3 linked regions of the Homo sapiens genome follow. The protein of the gene in region 3 purifies or fractionates together with the protein of the main gene of each other region. This does not show direct contact. Each region holds a gene or a part of one and is shown on either strand. Other genes may lie near its edges.

The links. The genes of interacting proteins can lie anywhere in the genome.
Region 1: the proteins of TRAFD1 (region 3) and ASPM purify together in Homo sapiens (affinity purification with mass spectrometry; 3 studies listed by BioGRID and IntAct, with this or other methods). This does not show direct contact.
Region 2: the proteins of TRAFD1 (region 3) and BTBD1 purify together in Homo sapiens (affinity purification with mass spectrometry; 2 studies listed by BioGRID and IntAct, with this or other methods). This does not show direct contact.

Annotation. Positions count from the first base shown.
Region 1 is NC_000001.11:197,094,643-197,101,675, reverse strand, and holds part of ASPM (abnormal spindle-like microcephaly-associated protein), read left to right. Parts: coding exon 1-1,245; intron 1,246-5,511; coding exon 5,512-5,678; intron 5,679-7,033. UniProt on the Homo sapiens protein: Involved in mitotic spindle regulation and coordination of mitotic processes.
Region 2 is NC_000015.10:83,036,226-83,043,258, forward strand, and holds part of BTBD1 (BTB/POZ domain-containing protein 1), read right to left. Parts: intron 5,701-7,033; coding exon 5,503-5,700; intron 1-5,502.
Region 3 is NC_000012.12:112,149,560-112,154,137, forward strand, and holds the end of TRAFD1 (TRAF-type zinc finger domain-containing protein 1), read left to right. Parts: intron 1-191; coding exon 192-312; intron 313-2,241; coding exon 2,242-2,581; intron 2,582-2,867; coding exon 2,868-2,940; intron 2,941-3,175; coding exon 3,176-3,232; 3' UTR 3,233-4,045; downstream 4,046-4,578. UniProt on the Homo sapiens protein: Negative feedback regulator that controls excessive innate immune responses. Regulates both Toll-like receptor 4 (TLR4) and DDX58/RIG1-like helicases (RLH) pathways.

The sequences.
Region 1 (7,033 bases), on a different chromosome or scaffold from region 3:
AATTATATCAGACAATGGCATTCTGCTGTGGTTATTCAGGCTGCATATAAAGGAATGAAAGCAAGACAACTTTTAAGGGAAAAACACAAAGCTTCTATCGTAATACAAAGCACCTACAGAATGTATAGGCAGTATTGTTTCTACCAAAAGCTTCAGTGGGCTACAAAAATCATACAAGAAAAATATAGAGCAAATAAAAAGAAACAGAAAGTATTTCAACACAATGAACTTAAGAAAGAGACTTGTGTTCAGGCAGGTTTTCAGGACATGAACATAAAAAAACAGATTCAGGAACAGCACCAGGCTGCCATTATTATTCAGAAGCATTGTAAAGCCTTTAAAATAAGGAAGCATTATCTCCACCTTAGAGCAACAGTAGTTTCTATTCAAAGAAGATACAGAAAACTAACTGCAGTGCGTACCCAAGCAGTTATTTGTATACAGTCTTATTACAGAGGCTTTAAAGTACGAAAGGATATTCAAAATATGCACCGGGCTGCCACACTAATTCAGTCATTCTATCGAATGCACAGGGCCAAAGTTGATTATGAAACAAAGAAAACTGCAATTGTGGTTATACAGAATTATTATAGGTTGTATGTTAGAGTAAAAACAGAAAGAAAAAACTTTTTAGCAGTTCAGAAATCTGTACGAACTATTCAGGCTGCTTTTAGAGGCATGAAAGTTAGACAAAAATTGAAAAATGTATCAGAGGAAAAGATGGCAGCCATTGTTAACCAATCTGCACTCTGCTGTTACAGAAGTAAAACTCAGTATGAAGCTGTTCAAAGTGAAGGTGTTATGATTCAAGAGTGGTATAAAGCTTCTGGCCTTGCTTGTTCACAGGAAGCAGAGTATCATTCTCAAAGTAGGGCTGCAGTAACAATTCAAAAAGCTTTTTGTAGAATGGTCACAAGAAAACTGGAAACACAGAAATGTGCTGCCCTACGGATTCAGTTCTTCCTTCAGATGGCTGTGTATCGGAGAAGATTTGTTCAGCAGAAAAGAGCTGCTATCACTTTACAGCATTATTTTAGGACGTGGCAAACCAGAAAACAGTTTTTACTATATAGAAAAGCAGCAGTGGTTTTACAAAATCACTACAGAGCATTTCTGTCTGCAAAACATCAAAGACAAGTCTATTTACAGATCAGAAGCAGTGTTATCATTATTCAAGCTAGAAGTAAAGGATTTATACAGAAACGGAAGTTTCAGGAAATTAAAAATAGCACCATAAAAATTCAGGTATTTCTATATTTAATTTAAATATAAAACTGTGAGTCTTTCTTTTGACCAATATTTGTTAGAATGTATAAAATGAGCTTAAGCAGGTCATAAAGAATAGTACTTAGTTGAGGTGACCATTTATCTTCCAAAGTGGAACATTTTTGAAAGAGGGAAAGGGCACTAGTAAGTCAGCCAAGACAGCACAGAACGGGGATTGTTCTGGCCATGGTCACCCTATGTGTGGTGCATTTCAGTATGGGTTAATTGTAGCACTCTTAGAAGAATTTTGAGAAAATAGGAGTCCTGTATTTGGCAAAGTTATTTCTTTAAGTGGAAAATATAAGCTAAGATAAAGTATTATTTGGCATAATATAGGCAAAATAGAGTAACTTTGTTCCTCTAATAATCTATTAACCAGAGCTGTTTGCTGCTTAGGCTAGTAGACATACTTTATTCTGAGTGTTTAGTACTTTGGCTTCCAAATCAATTTTGTATTATTTTGTTTTGTCTATTTGCCAAATGTGTGAGGAATGTACAGTATTATCTCTTTTAAAATATGAAGGAAGTGATAAAGTTTAAGTAATTTGGCCAATGTTGCATAGAGAGAGGCAGATCCAGGAACTGAATCTAAGTACTTCAGCTATTTCTTTTTACCTGCAATAACCCAGGCTTTAACCCAGATGTGATATGTTCATATCTTACTGGATTACTGTTAAATTTAGAAATAATGTTTTAATTCAAGAAATGTCAAGTGCTAGAAATGTGCCAAATGCTGTAGTGGGTGTTATAAATAGACAATGAGTAAGATATACTTAGTTGCTGTCCTCAAGGAACTTAATTGAACAAGGAAGTATAATTATAATACAACATGAGAAGTGTATGTTTCAGGAAACACAGAATGGGAAATCAAGCTAGTCTCCATGGTCAGAGACTTCCCAGAGTGAGTAACATTTAAGTTGAAATGTTACACTGAAGTATGAATTAGAAATAGCCCAGTAAAAGGTATAGAAGAATATTCCAATTGCAAGAGATAACGTGGAAAAATCAAAAAACTAGAAACAATAAAAAGTGATATGGGACCAGGTTGGCAATAGAGGGAGTAAGATTGTGGATAGATTTTTAAGACAGAAAAAATTTAGTCTTTATGCTCCAGACAAAACAAATTCTAGAGGAGTTTAAGCAGGAGAAGACCACAGTCATTTTTATTAAAAAAAAAAAAAAAATTACTCTGGCAGGAATGTGGAAGATGGACTGGAAAAGGAGCAAGACTAGAATCAGGTAGACCAAATGAAAATAGGCAGTAAGCCAGGTGAGAAAGAGTTATAGTTCAGTGTAGGTTTGTGACAATGGGATTGTAAGTTGGCATTATATAGAGCATGAACAAGGAGGCAAGCCATGTTGATGGCTTAAGTAACTCAGCAGAGTTACTCCCTCACACCCTGACATAGGGAATAAAGAGGGAAGAGCAGGTTTTGAGATTGATGATGAATTCAGTTTGGAGTATATAAGATCTGAAGTACCTAGCAGGTAACCCCCTTGAAATATCTAGTAAGGCAGTTGACTATGTTTGTCTGGAGTTCAGGAGAGTAGTGTGAGTATTAGAATTTGATTTGTACATTATGGGCATATGCTAATAATTAAAGTTCTGGGAATAATGAGATCACCAAGGAACAATACATAAAATGAGTGAACAAAGAGGGCCTGGGACTTGAGCCCTGAAGAACATCAAAATTCACAGACATTGACAAGAGAAGCCAACAAGGTGTTAAGAGGGAAAGAAGAAAGGTAAGAGATTAATGGTATCAAGAAACCAAGGTGTTAAGAGGGAAAGAAGAAAGGTAAGAGATTATGGTATCAAATTCCTAACACTACTGAGAAGTTCACAATTGAAAGGTGTTCATTGGATGTATTAGTTATGGTTTTATTCACTTAAAATGATTAAATAGCCAAAATAACAATCTTATAAAAATTTTTTTCTCTTACATAATTACATAATAAAATTGTATTTTACACATATAATTTTTAGCCTATGCCAGTGGTCTAAAACTTTACTGCATATTGGAGTCACCTGGAATTTTAAAACATACTCCTACCTTTAGATATTCTAATTGGTATGGGAAGCAACACAAGCGTGGGATTTGTTTCAAAGCTCCCAGGTGACTCTAATGAGCAGCGAAGTTTGGGAGCCACTGGGATATAGTATACATTACTAAATACTTACATATATATGTAAATATGTATGTTTTATATATATATATATATCAACTTCTCTGTAGCATTTGGGATTTAAGCACACTTTGTTTCTTCTCTCAACCCTTGGTTTCTTGATACCATAATCTCTTAGCTGTCTTCTTTCCCTCTTAACGCTATGTTGGCTTCTCTTGTCAATGTCTGTAAATTTTGATGTTCTTCAGGTGTGATGTGTGTGTGTGTATATATATATATATTTGTAAATATATATATACACACACGTATATCTATACATATATATAATTTTCTCATTAAAACTTTGTTTTAATGGGTCTCAAAATTCTGTGACAGATTTTCGGTCAATTTGTTTTCATTAAAAAGTACTGATTTTAAAAACTAGTAACTTATAACTGCCACAAGCAAAACAAAAACAAAAACACCAAAATGGTCCACAAAACATTCTCCTTTCCTCCTGAAGGTTTTATGATGCAGTGTTACCATTAACCAGTCTTTTACTGTTACAGTTAAATGGCCAATTGAAACAAACAGTTCTGAGACCATTCTTCTACCACTGATTAAGACTGAGGTGGCAGGTATTGGGGATATACATAAATAATGTATGCAGATTTACATAAAAACCGTATACAATATAGTCTGAATGAGTTAAGGTCATCTCAGAGTAATTTTGGCCATATATAATTATTGCATTATCAACTGAATTTAGAACCTAATCTAAATATACGTTGTGCCTATAGTATTTGTTGTGCTGCGGGATAATTAAGGAATCAGAGAGACCGAGGGATTTGAGGAGGAATTATTTAATTATTTATGTGCACCGACCCAGTCGGATTAACATCCAAAGAGGACTGAGCCCTGAACAAAGAGTCAAGCTACCTTTTAAGCATTTCGTGGGGCATGGGGAGATCTGTGCAGGGGGAAGCGTATTACAGAAGAGAGAAACAAAGACAGTTATTCAAGTAAGAGATGCATTACATTATTTCTTACTTTTTAAGGAACAACATGTTTTACAACTTGAGATTATCTGTCTAGTGTCCTTGCAGCTGCACAGCTAGAGAAACAGTCTTCACAATGCCTGGGAAAGGGAGAGATAAGGCTCACTAGCCACAGAGAGAAAAACACAGTTAATTTTAAAGGACTCCAGCCCTTTCTCTTCCCAAGGGGAATTGGGTTTTCTTACATACAACTGAGTTTTTGCTTACACAGTCTTTAATTTCTTTTAATTCCTCTTCCTGTAGGGATGTTGGAGTCAAATAGACTTGGGTTCAAATCTTGACTCTGTCACTTAACAGCTATATGCTAACAAGTCCTTCTTAATTTCAATTTTGGATTTTTTTCCTTTTTTATAAAACAGAGATCTTAACCATTTTATAAGATATTTATAAATATTAAGTAAGACAACTCTGCCACTTATTAACCTGTGTGACATCAACAAGTTACTCAATTTCTCTAGGCCTTGATTTCCTCATCTCTAAATTAGAGATAATAGTATTATCTACCCATGTGATTATTAAGGACTAATCTTCTTAGTGCTTAGTTCAATAAGTTGTAGCTGTCATGTAAACCTTTAGTCTTCCAGAAGGTTGTCAAAATCAGAAAGTCTGACAGTCCTATCACAGGAGCTCTCAGGATTCTCCTGCAGGCTGAACACAGAACCCAAAGTGAATATGGATTGGGAAGAATTCCTCTTTCTCCCCAGAACCTGCAGTAGGTCAATGTGTTCATTTTCTTTTCTTCCAAATGGATTGAGGTGATGAGGATAATTTACATAATGTGGGGCTTTTCAGACATGTGTGTCTTACAATTTATAAATACTGGTTAGGGTTTTGTTAGGCTGGGCTGGCAGCCAGCCATAAGGTATGTGTGATAAAGCACATAATACGTGTTCACTATAGTAAGCACCACTGTTCTCAGAAGACTCATTACATGTCAAAGTCTAAAAGAGTCATGATATGACTATGCAATTTATTTTTGTCTGCACTAACCTTATTTTAACTGTCTTTATACTGATTTGTCTTATTTACAAAAAAAAAGAGACAACTCATTGCATACTTGTTATATTTATGTATTTAATAGGCTATGTGGAGGAGATATAGAGCCAAGAAATATTTATGTAAAGTGAAAGCTGCCTGCAAGATTCAAGCCTGGTATAGATGTTGGAGAGCACACAAAGAATATCTAGCTATATTAAAAGCTGTTAAAATTATTCAAGGTTGCTTCTATACCAAACTAGAGAGAACACGGTAATGTATCATAGTTCTGTGGAGAGTGTAAAAGTATTTGTGTGTGATAGCTAAGTCTTTACATAAAATAACACTGCTTATTGATTTTTATTTTAAATATTTGTTATGCTTAATTTATATGGTTGGTTTTGTTGATATTTTCTTTATTAAGGAAACAAAATACATCTCTCGTACTGTCTTGCTTTTTTGAGATAGAGCATAGCCTTTAATTAATATAATCTAAAAATATTATATACTTGATTAATTCAGGTTCATAAGGATTAGAGTAAGGACAGAGACGTAGGAAGTGAATAAAATCATTTAGTTAAGACTTGGTTTTCTTATTAGTGCTTTGGGCCATTTTGCTGGGTGACTTAACTACTGGCAAAATTTGTTTTCTTACTCATTCTTTTTTTCTTTGAACTTTGTATTATTCCTCATACTCTTTGTCATTAATGATGAAGACCCTAATTACCAACCTGTCTATGCTAATTGTATTTCACTATTCCTAGCTTATTTCTCACACACACATTTTCAGAAGCTGTTACCAGATCATCTTTTTTTAAGTTCATAGTATAAGAATTTTTCTTCAGCTCCCAGAGTTGATGAATTATTGAATCAATGATGGTTTTAAAGATGGTTTAGGAAGGCACACTAGTGTGAGAGGAATTTTTGGATGAAGCCCATGGGTAGAAGCAGGGCTTAACATATACAGTTGATCGCATGAAGATAGAAGTAGAATGTTGGTTACCAGAGGCTAGGATAGGGAGAGGGGAGGGGTGGATAACGACAGGCTGGTTAATGGGTACAAAAATACAGTGAGAAGGAATAAGATTTACTGTTTAGTAGCACAATAGGGCAACTATAGTTAACAATAATTTATTGTATATTTCAAAATAACTAGAGGAATAGAATTAGAAGTTTCCTAATAGAAGGAAATGATAAATGTTCGAGGTGATGGATATCCCATTTACCCTGATTTGATCATTACTCATTGTGTGCTTGAATCAAAATATCACATGTACTCTGTAAATATTTACAACTATTATATATCCATAAAAATAAAAATTAAAAAGCATATAAAGATACAGTTGCTACTATCAGCTATTAAGGACCAGTATCTAATTTTCCTGTAACAGATGCTGAATTTTTCTCAATGGTGTTTGGTCCTATTTTCTAAGAAACATGGCAACAAAACAAGCTACTCATTGTACTTTTTCCACATTATCAAGAACAGAGTAGAAAACCTGTCCATTCTCACATTTTATCTCTTAGTATTATGTTGATCCCTAAAATTTAATCTCTAGTGCTCAGATTTTTTAAAATTTTTCTCCAGTTCTGTTTACGAAATATCTCTACTTAGATATTTTGATGAT
Region 2 (7,033 bases), on a different chromosome or scaffold from region 3:
TATCTGTAATTACATTAAGTGCAAGTGAACCAAAACAGTTCAGATAAAAGACAAAGTCTGTCAGACTGGATTAAAAAATTATTGGCATATTCAACATCATTAATCATCCGTGATATGAAATTTAAAACCAAAATGAAATACGTCCTCACATCCACACAAATGGCTAGAACTACAAAAACTGACAATACCAAGTATTGGAGAGGATGTGGGCAACCAAAACAAACTCTTATGTCTCTTCACTTTGTTGATGAGTGTAAACTGTTACAACCACTTTAAGGGACTGTTTGGCAGGATGGCAGGATCTACTAAAGCCGACCATATGCACACTCCATGACTTAGCAATTCCACTCGTATATATCCAACAGAAATGTTTACGTATGTATACCAAATCACACGTACAAGAATGGCCTCAATGGTCCCCAAACAGAAATAATCCATATATCCAACAACAGTAAAATGGATAAATCATGGCACAGTTGTATAACAGAATATTATAAAGCAATGAAAAAGAATGAACTACTGCCACACTCAACCACATGGATGAATCTAACAGGCGTAATGTTAAGAGAAAGAAGCCACACAAAAATGAATACACACCATATATATGATTTCCTTTATATAAAGTTTACATATGGACACAACTAATTTATAGAAGACAGAAAGTAGTCACCTTTCAGAGGGAGATTAGTGACTTAGAGGGTCATGACAAAGGCTTCTGGGGTACTAGTACAGTAGGATAAATTGGTTAAATAAGTATGTTCACTTTATTTGTTAATTTTACTATATGGATGTTAAACTTTAATTTCAAAAGTTTATTTAAAAAAAACCCAAACACTGATTCTTATCAGCAAAAACAAAAACAATCTTGGAGAAAATTGGAACAAGTATAAGTCAGAAAAAAAAATTTGGTATAATAATAAATATACAAAGAATCAATGTAAGATAAACCAGTAAAACAAAATTTGAACACACCAACAGAACAACAAAAGACATGAATAATGTAAAGGAAAATAAATAGGCCAATAAGCATAATGAAATACAATTCAGCCAGGCACACTGGCTAAGAGGTGAAGGTGGAAGAATCACTTGAGCCCAGAAGCTCATGGCCAGCCTGAGCAACATGGCAAGACTTCATCTTTAAAACTAAAATAAAATCGAAAAATAAAAAGTAATACAATTCAAAACAATCATGAAATAGTGTTAAAAATAAAAACCATATGACTGTCTCAATAGACATGAAAAAGCATTCAATAAAATCCAGCATCTCTTCATGATAAAAGCCCTCAACAAACTAGGCATCAAAACAATATCCCCAAAATAACAAGAGCCATCTATGATAAATCCACAACTAACATCATGCTGAAAGGGCAAAAGCTAGAGGCATTCACCTTGAAATTAGAAAAAGACAAGGATGCTCACTCTAACCACTCCTATTCAACATAGTACTGGTAGTCCCAGCCAGAGCAATCAGGAAAGGAAAAGAAATAAAATGCACCCAAATAAGAAAAGAAGTCAAACTATCTCTCTTCACAGATGATATGCTTCTATACCTACAGAACCCTAAAGATTCCACCAGGCCAGGTGCGGTGGCTCACGCCTGTAATCCCAGCGCTTTGGGAGGCCAAGACAGGGTGGATCACCTGAGGTCAGGAGTTTGAGACCAGCCTGGCCAACATGGTGAAACCCCATCTCTACTAAAAATACAAAAATTAGCTAGGCACGGTGGCAGGCACCTGTAATCCCAGCTACTCGGGAGGCTGAGGCAGGAGAATCTCTTGAACCCGGGAGGCAGAGGTTGCAGTGAGCTGAGCTCGTGCCAGTGCACTCCAGCCTAGGCAACAAACAAGAAAACTCCATCTCAAAAAAATAAAAAAAGTTCCACCAAAGGCGCCTGGAACTGATAAAGAACTTCAATAAAGCCTCAGAATATAAAATTAATGTACAAAAGTCAGCAGCATTTCTATACGCCAGTAACGTTCAAGCTGAGAGCCAAATCATGAATGCAATCCCATTTACCATGTCCACACAAAAAATAAAATACCTAGAAATACATCTAACTAAGATGTATTTCTACCAGGTATTTTTACATCCATACATCTTGGTTAGATATATTTTTACCAAGTAAAAGATCTCTACAAGGAGAACTATAAAACACTGCTGGAGGAAATCACAGATGACACAAACAAATGGAAAAACATTATATGCTCGTGGATTGGAAGACTCAATATCGTTCAAATGACCATATTGCCCAAAGCAATCTACAGATTTAATGCTATTTCTATCAAACTACCAACATCATTTTTCACAGAACTAGAAAAATATTCTAAAATATGCATGGAACAAAAAAAAAGCCTAAATAGCCAAAGCAATCCTAAGCAGAAAGAACAAAATTGGAGGCATCACATTACCACTGGATTTCAAACTATACTATAAGGCTACAGTAACCAAAACAGCATGTTACTGGTACAAAAACAGACACATACACCAATGGAACAGAAAAGAGAACCCAGAAATAAAGCTGCAGACCTACAGCACCTCATCTTTGACAAAATGGGGAAAGATCCCTCTATTCAGTAAAGGGTGCTGGGAAAGTTGGCTAGCCATATGCTGAAGAATGAAACTGGACCCCTACCTTTCACCATACATAAAAATTAACTCAAGATGGATTAAAGATTTAAAGTAAGACCTCAAACTATAAGAATCCTAGAAAAAAACCTAGGAAATACTTTTCTGGACACTGGCCTTGGGAGAGAATTTATGACAAAGTCCTCAAAAGCAATTGCAACAAAAACAAAAACTGACAAGTAGGACCTAATTAAACTAAAGAGCTTCTGCACAGTAAAAGAAACTATCAACCCAACAAATGGACAACCTATAGAATGGGAGAAAATATTCACAAACTATGTGTTGGACAAAGGTCTAATATCCAGGATCTACAGGGAATTTTAACAATTCAATAAGAAAAAAAAAACTCATAAAAAGTGGGCCAAAAAATATGAACAGACATTTCTCAAAAGAAGATATACAAGCAGCCAACAAACATGAAAAAAATCCTCAACATCACTAATCATCAGAGAAATGCAAATCCAAACTACAATGAGATACCACCTCATACTCCTCAGAATGCCTATTAAAATAAAAAAAACAGTTGCTGGCAAGGCTACAGAGAAAAGGGAATTCGTGTTCACTGATGGTGGGAATGTAGATAAGGTTAGCCATTGTGGGAAGCAGTTTGGAGATTTTTTAAAGAACTCAGAACTACCAAGGTTGGGCACAGTGGCTCATGTCTGTAATCCCAGCACTCTGGGAGGCTGAGGCAGGTGGATCACTTCAGGTCAACAGTTCAAGACCAGCCTGCACAACATGGTGAAACCCCATCTCTACCAAAAAATACAAAAATTAGCTAAGCTTGGTGGCGGGCGGGCGTATGTAGTCCCAGTTACTCAGGAGGCTGAGGTGGGAGAATTGCCTGAACCCAGGAGGTGGAAGTTGCAGTGAGCTAAGATTGTACCACTGTACTCCAGCCTGGGTGACAGAGTGAGGCTCTGTCTCAAAAAAAAAAAAAAAAACCACAAACAACCTCCCAAAAAAACCAAAAAACATAGAACTACCAGTCAACCCAGCAATCCCATTACTGGTTATATATCCAAAAGAAAAGAAAATGTTCCACCAAAAGACACATGCACTCATATGTTCATCACAGCAACGACACTGACTCAACCTGGGTGCCCATCAGTGGTAGACTGGGTAGAGAATGTGACACACACACACACACACACACACACACACACGGACACACACACACCACAGAATACTATAAAGCCATAAAAAAGAACAAAATCATGCCTTTCGCAGCAACATGGATGCAGCTAGAAGCCATTATCTTAAGTGAGTTAATGCAGAAACAGTAAACCAAATACCGTATGTTCTCACTTGTGGAAGCTAAACATTGGATACACATGGACATAAAGATGGAAACAATAAGCACTGAGGACTGTTAAAAAGGGGAAAAGAGGAAGGGACAGAAGGGGGAAAAGAGTTAAAAAACTAACTACTGGACACTATGCTCACTGCCTAAGTGATGCAATCAACTGTACCTCAAACTTCAGCATCACACAATATACACATGAAACAAATCTGCACGTTACCCCGAATTTAAAATAAAAGTTGAAATTATTTTTTAAAAAATCATGAGAGCTAGGCACAGTGGCTCATGCCTATAATCCCAGCACTTTGGGAGCCCGAGGTGGGCAGATCACCTGAGGTCAGGAGTTCAAGACCAGCTTGACAAATATGGTGAAACTCTGTCTCTACTAAAAATACAAAAATTAGTTTGTGGCGGTGCACGCCTGTAATCCCAGCTACTCAGGAGGCTGAGGTGTGAGAATCGCTTGAACCCAGGAGATGGACGTTGCGGTGAGCTGAGATCGCACGACCGCACTCCAGCCTGAGCAACAGAGGGAGACCCTGTCTCAAAAAAAAAAAAAAAAAAAAAACCATGAGACTTTTCTTTCTTTTGAATCAATCTGGCCGTGATTTAAAGGCAGATAATAGTCAATTATGACCTGGGTAATGAAAACAGGTCAGAAGTGGTCATGGAGACTCAAAACAGATCTGTCTGATTTTAATCAGAAGCATCGACCTTAAGAGTCAAACAGAGGCTGGGCGTGGTGGCTTACACCTGTAATCCCAGCACTTTGGGAGGCTTGAGCCCAGGAGTTCAAGACCAGCCCTGACAGGATGGTGAAATCCTGTCTCTATAAAAAAAATTAAAAAATTAGCTGAGCATGGTAGTGTGCACCTATAGTCCCTGCTATTTGGGAGGCTGAGGTGGGAGGATTGATTGAGCCTGGGAGGTGGAGGCTTCAGTGAAATGCGTTTGTGCCACGGCACTCCAGCCTGGGTAACAGAGGAAGACTCTGTCTCAAAAAAAGAAAAAAAAGAAAAAAAAAAAAAGCCAAAAAGATCTGTCATAACCTGGGGTAAGGCACTCAACCTCTCCCAACTTTACTTCTCTAACCTATACAATGTGGATAATATAATTTTGAAGGGCTTAAAATCATACACTCGCATATATGTTTGTCATGTGATTAGTACTGAATAAAAGCTTCTTTTCCTCTCTGGCGCAGGGAGACTGATAGAATTTTTTTTTTTTTTTGAGATGGAGTCTCGTGGAATCTCGCTCTGTCGCCCGGGCTGGAATGCAACGGCATGATCTCGGCTCACTGCAACCTCCGTCTCCTGGGTTCAAGCGATTCTCCTGCCTCAGCCTCCTGAGTAGCTGAGATTACAGGTGCCCACCACCATGCCTAATTTTTTGTACTTTTAGTAGAGACGGGGTTTTACCATGTTGACAAGGCTGGTGTCGAACTCCTGTCCTCAAGTGATCCACCTGCCTTGGCCTCTCGAAAGTGCTGGGATTATAGGTGTGAGCCACCAGGCCCAGCCCTGACAGACTATTAAAACAGTTTCAAATAGATTTTGGTGAATTTATACCCTTACCTGCTGCAAATTCCTCAATTGTCATCAGTGGGAACCGGATTAAGGAAAGTGCTTTTCCTAGAACTTTTTGTTTATTCCCAAAAGTCACAGGTAATTGTTGTCTCTGACATTCTGCTTCTGCCCAGCGTACAACAGCTCCAAAAAGTCGACTTTCTCGAATACTGAGTGTGTCTCTCTCTAAAACTGCACAGAGTGTATCTATAGGCAAAATACAAAATAAACCCAATTAGAAATATTTTAGCTCTCTAACCAAGCAATACCAACAGACACACTTATATTAAGTTTTCAGATCTCAACAAAAAATAGGTTAGACACTTAAAACTACAGACTTTATACTTTAAAATACTAAATAATTAAAGGACTTAAACTCCAAAGTGTTCCATAAAAATCAGTTTAACAATCAATTTATTACTTACCATACATGCAATATTAAGATACAGTACTCTCCTTATATATTTATGCCATTTATCAAGTAAACTCAACTATCCAGAATAAGATTAACAAGCCACAGAAAAAGGTTCCAATTACATAAATTCTTAAAGTCTACAGATTATAATTCATTCGTTCATTCAGTAAATATTTATTATTAAGCACTACGTGCCAGGTACTATTAGGCAATTTTATATATATATATATATATATATATATATGTATGTATATATTTTGGATATAGAGTCATAGAGTCTCATTCTGTTGCTCAGGCTGGAGTGCAGAGGCACAATCTCGGCTCAATGCAACCTCTGCCTCCTAGGTTCAAGCAATTCTCCTGCCTCAGCCTCCTGGGTAGCTTGGATTACTGGCACGGGCCACCACACCTGGCTAATTTTTATATTTTTAGTAGAGACAGGGTTTCACCATGTTGGCCAGCCTGGTCTCAAACTTCCGACCTGAAGTGATCTGCCTGCCTCGGCCTTCCAAAGTGCTGGGATTACAGGCGTGAGCCACCGCGCCCAGCCAGCACTGATATATCACTGAACAAAAAGTTAAAAATTCCTGCCCTCATGGAGCTTACATTCTAATGAGGAGAAACAGATTAAATAAACACAAGTAAATTCGAGTATCTTAGATGATATACATGGGCAAATATGTCAGGTTAAGGAGAATCAGAAATGCAGTTTAAAATAGGAAGGGGCCAGGCATGGTGACCCATGCCAGTAGTCCCAGCAATTTAAGAGGCTGAGACAGGAGCATGGCTTGAGCCCAGGAGTTTCAGGCCAGCCTGGGCAATATAGTGAGACCCCATCTCTACAAAAAAGTTTTTAAAAATTAGCCAGGCATGGTGGCATGCACTTGTAGTCTCAGCTACTCAGGAGGCTGAGACAGCAGGATCACTCGAGCCTGGGAGGTTGCAGGCTGCAGTGAGCCATGATCATGCCATTGTACTCCAGCCCAGGCAACAGAGTGAGACTGTGCCAAAAAATAATAAAATAAAATAAAATCGGGTGGTTTAGGCAGGCTTCACTTATGCCAAGACATGAAGGAAGTGGGGGAGTAAGCCAAATAGATACCTAGAGGAATAGTATTCCAGGAC
Region 3 (4,578 bases):
GTCAGTGCCTCATGTGCCGATGGGATTGAATGCAACCATTCCAGATGTGTGGTTTCTGAAAGTTCCCAGAACTTTCAGAGGTTGTCAAAGTCCCCCTCCAGATGAGGAATACACTGCTGTTCCTCCCATCGCATGCTCTTTTCTGGGAATGACTCAATTCAGAGGTACTAATTCTGGTTTTTCTTGTTTAGGACCAGTGTGACCAACGCCCAGCCACTGCAACCAACCATGTGACAGAGGGGATTCCTAGACTGGATTCCCAGCCTCAAGAGACCTCACCAGAGCTGCCCAGGAGGCGTGTCAGACACCAGGGTATTTATTAGCCAGGACTCAGCCAAGGCCGCAGGTCTACTGCTGGCTCCGGCCTGTTTACCACTTCCCATCCACTGCTCTAATGTGGGGATTACCTGCATCTCAAATTTCCAAACACACTAGGGTCTCATAGGGGACTCCTCTGCAGGTAGTTGTGGTCCCACATTAGACTGAGCTCTCTCAAGTGTGTGATTTTTAGGGTAATGGCTTTGCGGACATCCATGAGATACATGTAGTAGTAAGTGCTTGTAATAAGTTTCTGGTTTCCTATCTGTGCACTTAGTGGATTATTTGTAGATAATTTGCAGACCTTATGGTAGCTACCCTGGGCCCCCATTTCAAGTTGAAATACACTTAGGGTACTCAAACCTATTATTATTATTTAATTTTTTTGTAGAGACAGAGTCTTGCTCTGTCACCCAGGCTGGAGTACAGTGGCACAATCATAGCTTACCACAGCCTCAAACTCCTGGGCTCAAGTGATCCTCTCTCCTCAGCCTCCCAAGTAGCTGGAACTACAGGCACACTCTACTACACCCAACTAATTTTTTTGTTTTTGTAGAGATAGGGTCTTGCTATGTTGCCCAGGGTGATTTCGAACTCTTGGCCTCAAGTAGTCCTCCTGCCTTGGACTCCCAAAGCATTGGGGTTACATGCGTAGGCCACTGTGACCGACCTCAAACTTATTTATTTAATTTATTTTTTTTAGACAGGGTCTCTTTGTCATCCAGGCTGGAGTGCAGTGGCGTGATCACTGCAGTCTCAACCTCTTGAGCTCAAGTGATTCTCCCACTCTTAGCCTCCTGAGTAGCTGGGACTATAGGTAGGCTAGGTGCCCACCAACACACCCAGCTAATTTTTAATTTTTTTTTGTAGAGTTGGGGTTTCGCCACATTGTCCAGGCTGATCTTGAACTCCTGGGCTCAAGTGTTCCTCCCAGCTCGGCCTCCCAAAGTGTTGGGATTACAGGTGTGAGCCATCACACCCAGCCTCAAACTTATTATTATTACTTAAGACCATCATGTTTAGGCAAGTAAACTGTTTTTGAAACCTCACCACTACAAAGCCAATTAGAAATTATTTTTTGGCTGGGCATGGTGACTCACACCTGTAATCCCAGCACTTTGGGAGGCTGAGGTGGGCGGATCACAAGGTTGGGAGTTCAAGACCAGCCTGGCTGACATCATGAAACCCCGTCTCTACTAAAAATACAAAAATTAGCCGGGCGTGGTGGCGGGCGCCAGTAGTCCCAGCTACTTGGGAGGCTGAGGCAGGAGAATCACTTGAATCCAGGAGGCAGAGGCTGCAGTGAGCCAAAATCATGCCATTGCACTCCAGTCTGGGCGACAGAGCAAGACTCCATCTCAAAAAAAAAATTATTTTTCAAGGTTTGCTTGCACACTATTGTTGAATAGTTAGGAGGCTGTCTTTGAGGACTCAGATAATATGTGCAGAATTGATAAAATATCCCCATCTCTGCCCTGGAGATGTGGGTTCCAGCAGCCTTTTGGGGTGAGCAGTTGTCTTTTTTTTTTTTGAGACACAGTCTTGCTCTGTCTTGTCCAGGCTGGAGTGCAGTGGCATGATCTTGGCTCACTGCAGTCTTCACCTCCTGGGTTTAAGTGATTCTCCTGGTCTCAGCCTCCTGAGTAGCTGAGACTATAGCTGTGTGCCACCTCACCTGGCTAATTTTGTATTTTTTTTTTAGTAGAGATGGAATTTCACCATGTTGGCCAGGCTGGTCTCTAACTCTTGACCTCAGGTGATCCCCGCACCTCGGCCTCCCAAAGTGCTGGGTTTACAGGCATGAGCCACCACGCCTGGCTGAGCAGTTGTCTTCTATCTGGAATCTTTTTGTTCCTGCCCTAAACCTGGCACTATAGCCAGAGCAGGCTTTTTCCTAAAGCTGTTACCATTTTCTCTTCTCAGGAGACCTGTCTTCTGGTTACCTGGATGATACTAAGCAGGAAACAGCTAATGGGCCCACCTCCTGTCTGCCTCCCAGCCGACCCATTAACAATATGACAGCTACCTATAACCAGCTATCGAGATCAACATCAGGCCCCAGACCTGGGTGCCAGCCCAGCTCTCCTTGTGTGCCGAAGCTCAGCAACTCAGACAGCCAGGACATCCAGGGGCGGAATCGAGACAGCCAGAATGGGGCCATAGCCCCTGGGCACGTTTCAGTGATTCGCCCTCCTCAAAATCTCTACCCAGAAAACATTGTGCCCTCTTTCTCCCCTGGGCCTTCAGGGAGATACGGAGCTAGGTAAGAATCAGTAGCCCAGGAATGGGGCTTGGGAGTAGCTGAAGCGAACATGGGCAAAGGCCTGGTTACCCTTGCCAGGCCTGGGGTAAGACTGAGGTACTTGCATGGTAAGGGGAGGAGTATGGATTTTCCCTGTATTGTCACCTGACTCCAAAAAAATTATTTTGTGGCCTATGGGTTTTTTGGGGTTTGTCTGCTAGCATAGGACTGCTTCCTGTTCCCTCTGAGTTTGTTGACCTTTGCTCAGGGACACTTCAGGAGCTAGTTTCTAATTGTTTTCTTTCAGTGGTAGGAGTGAAGGTGGCAGGAATTCCCGGGTCACCCCTGCAGCTGCCAACTACCGCAGCAGAACTGCAAAGGTAAGGTGGGCTCCAGCCCATGATGCTCAGTGGGGGACTCAGACATGGTGGGGCTTGTGTGGCTCCTGAAGTTGTAGAAGTTGTTGGGACCAGGCTGGTTGTGGTTCAAAGATTGTTCCTTTGGCTTTTGAGAAGGAGGTTTCTAAGGAAGCGGGACATTTTCGGGGATCCAGGGGAGGAGTAATGCTTTTTCACTTTTTATGTAAAGCTTCGTTTGTGTTGTGTTGTTCACCAGGCAAAGCCTTCCAAGCAACAGGGAGCTGGGGATGCAGAAGAGGAAGAGGAGGAGTAATGGTGTCTCCAGAGACTTTACATCGGTTCCTGTCTTCTGTGCACAGCAGCACTTGCCGCTGTGCAGGCCCACCTCTTTGGCTCTTTGGGTGGGAGAGTTTTTCCAGATTTTAGATTTTTCTAGGTTATGGCCATTTTGTGTCTTTTGAGGTTGTGCTGTGGGGGTTTGGGTTTGAGGGAAGGGAGCAGGGTGGCGGTTGAGGAACGCTTCAGCCTTAGCTGCTACCTTTCGGCAGCAGTGAAATACAAGCTGCAGCCTCGGCTGCCAGGGCTCCCTTTTGACTTATTGTCGCCACTGCCCCTTGGTGCTGTGTGGTCCCAGTGGAAGGAGGGGAAGATTTTGGAAACCTGGTAGCCACCAGTAAGGTGATTCTCTGCCCTGTTGGGGCCTAAATTTGGGGGCTTTTGGGCAACCTCTCCGTGTACTGCGTCTGTCCACACTCGATTGGGCCCCAGGTGTGTATGAGGCGCTCTGGTAAGGTGCTCAGGCCAGTTGCAATGTCTGTCAGTAACGAGGCTTTTGATGTGTTGAGCTGGAGGTGAGTGGACCGGGGGCTGTGTTTTAAGCTGCTTCCTTGGCATTTGGCATCACTGCCTTCTGTTCCCGGGGGAGCATGGATCTTTTGTCCTCACTGCTTTCTAATGGGGAGGGCTGAGGGCTCCCTGTCCCCACAGCAGGTATGTTGGGCTCTGCCCCAGCCCCACACTTGCTCTGAAAACCAAGTGTCAGAGCCCCTTCCCCTTGTTTTTATTTTACTGTTATAATAATTATTAACTTCCTTGTAATAGAAATAAAGTTTGTACTTGGAGTTCAGCTCAGTCTTGTGGTTCCTTCTCCTGTGTGCTTTAGAGACTGCAGGGAGGGCAGGGTAGGCTGGAGTCAGCCCTGGGGTTGGAGGAGGTGAGCAGGGCTGGGCTTTCTCCGGCACTCCAGTAACCCTCGCAGCTCCACCATGAGTCCCTTCTTGGAGTACACAGACATTGAACGTGTAGTGTTTTAAATTGGACTTCTGAGAAAACTGACAGGCTTGCTGCAGCTCCGGTGATGACTGGGGCTAGAAGGGGTGCCTCTGACTGAATAGAGAAAAGCAGATTCTTCAAAAGCCTTCATCCTGAGAGGAGTTGAGCCCTAGCAGGATTAGCTGTTACCCCTCAGTGCCTCCGTCTGCATAGGACCACTGAGCACCGTAGGTCATTTTGAGTTCCTTTGTTCTTCCAACAACCTGTTGGGGTGGGAAAGGTGGGAGGAACTGCCCTATTTCATAGATGGAACACTAGACACGGGAACCATGCGGCCAGTTCTTTGCAGAGGCAGGTCTCTGAAAAGAATTATCCTGAGAGAAAAAA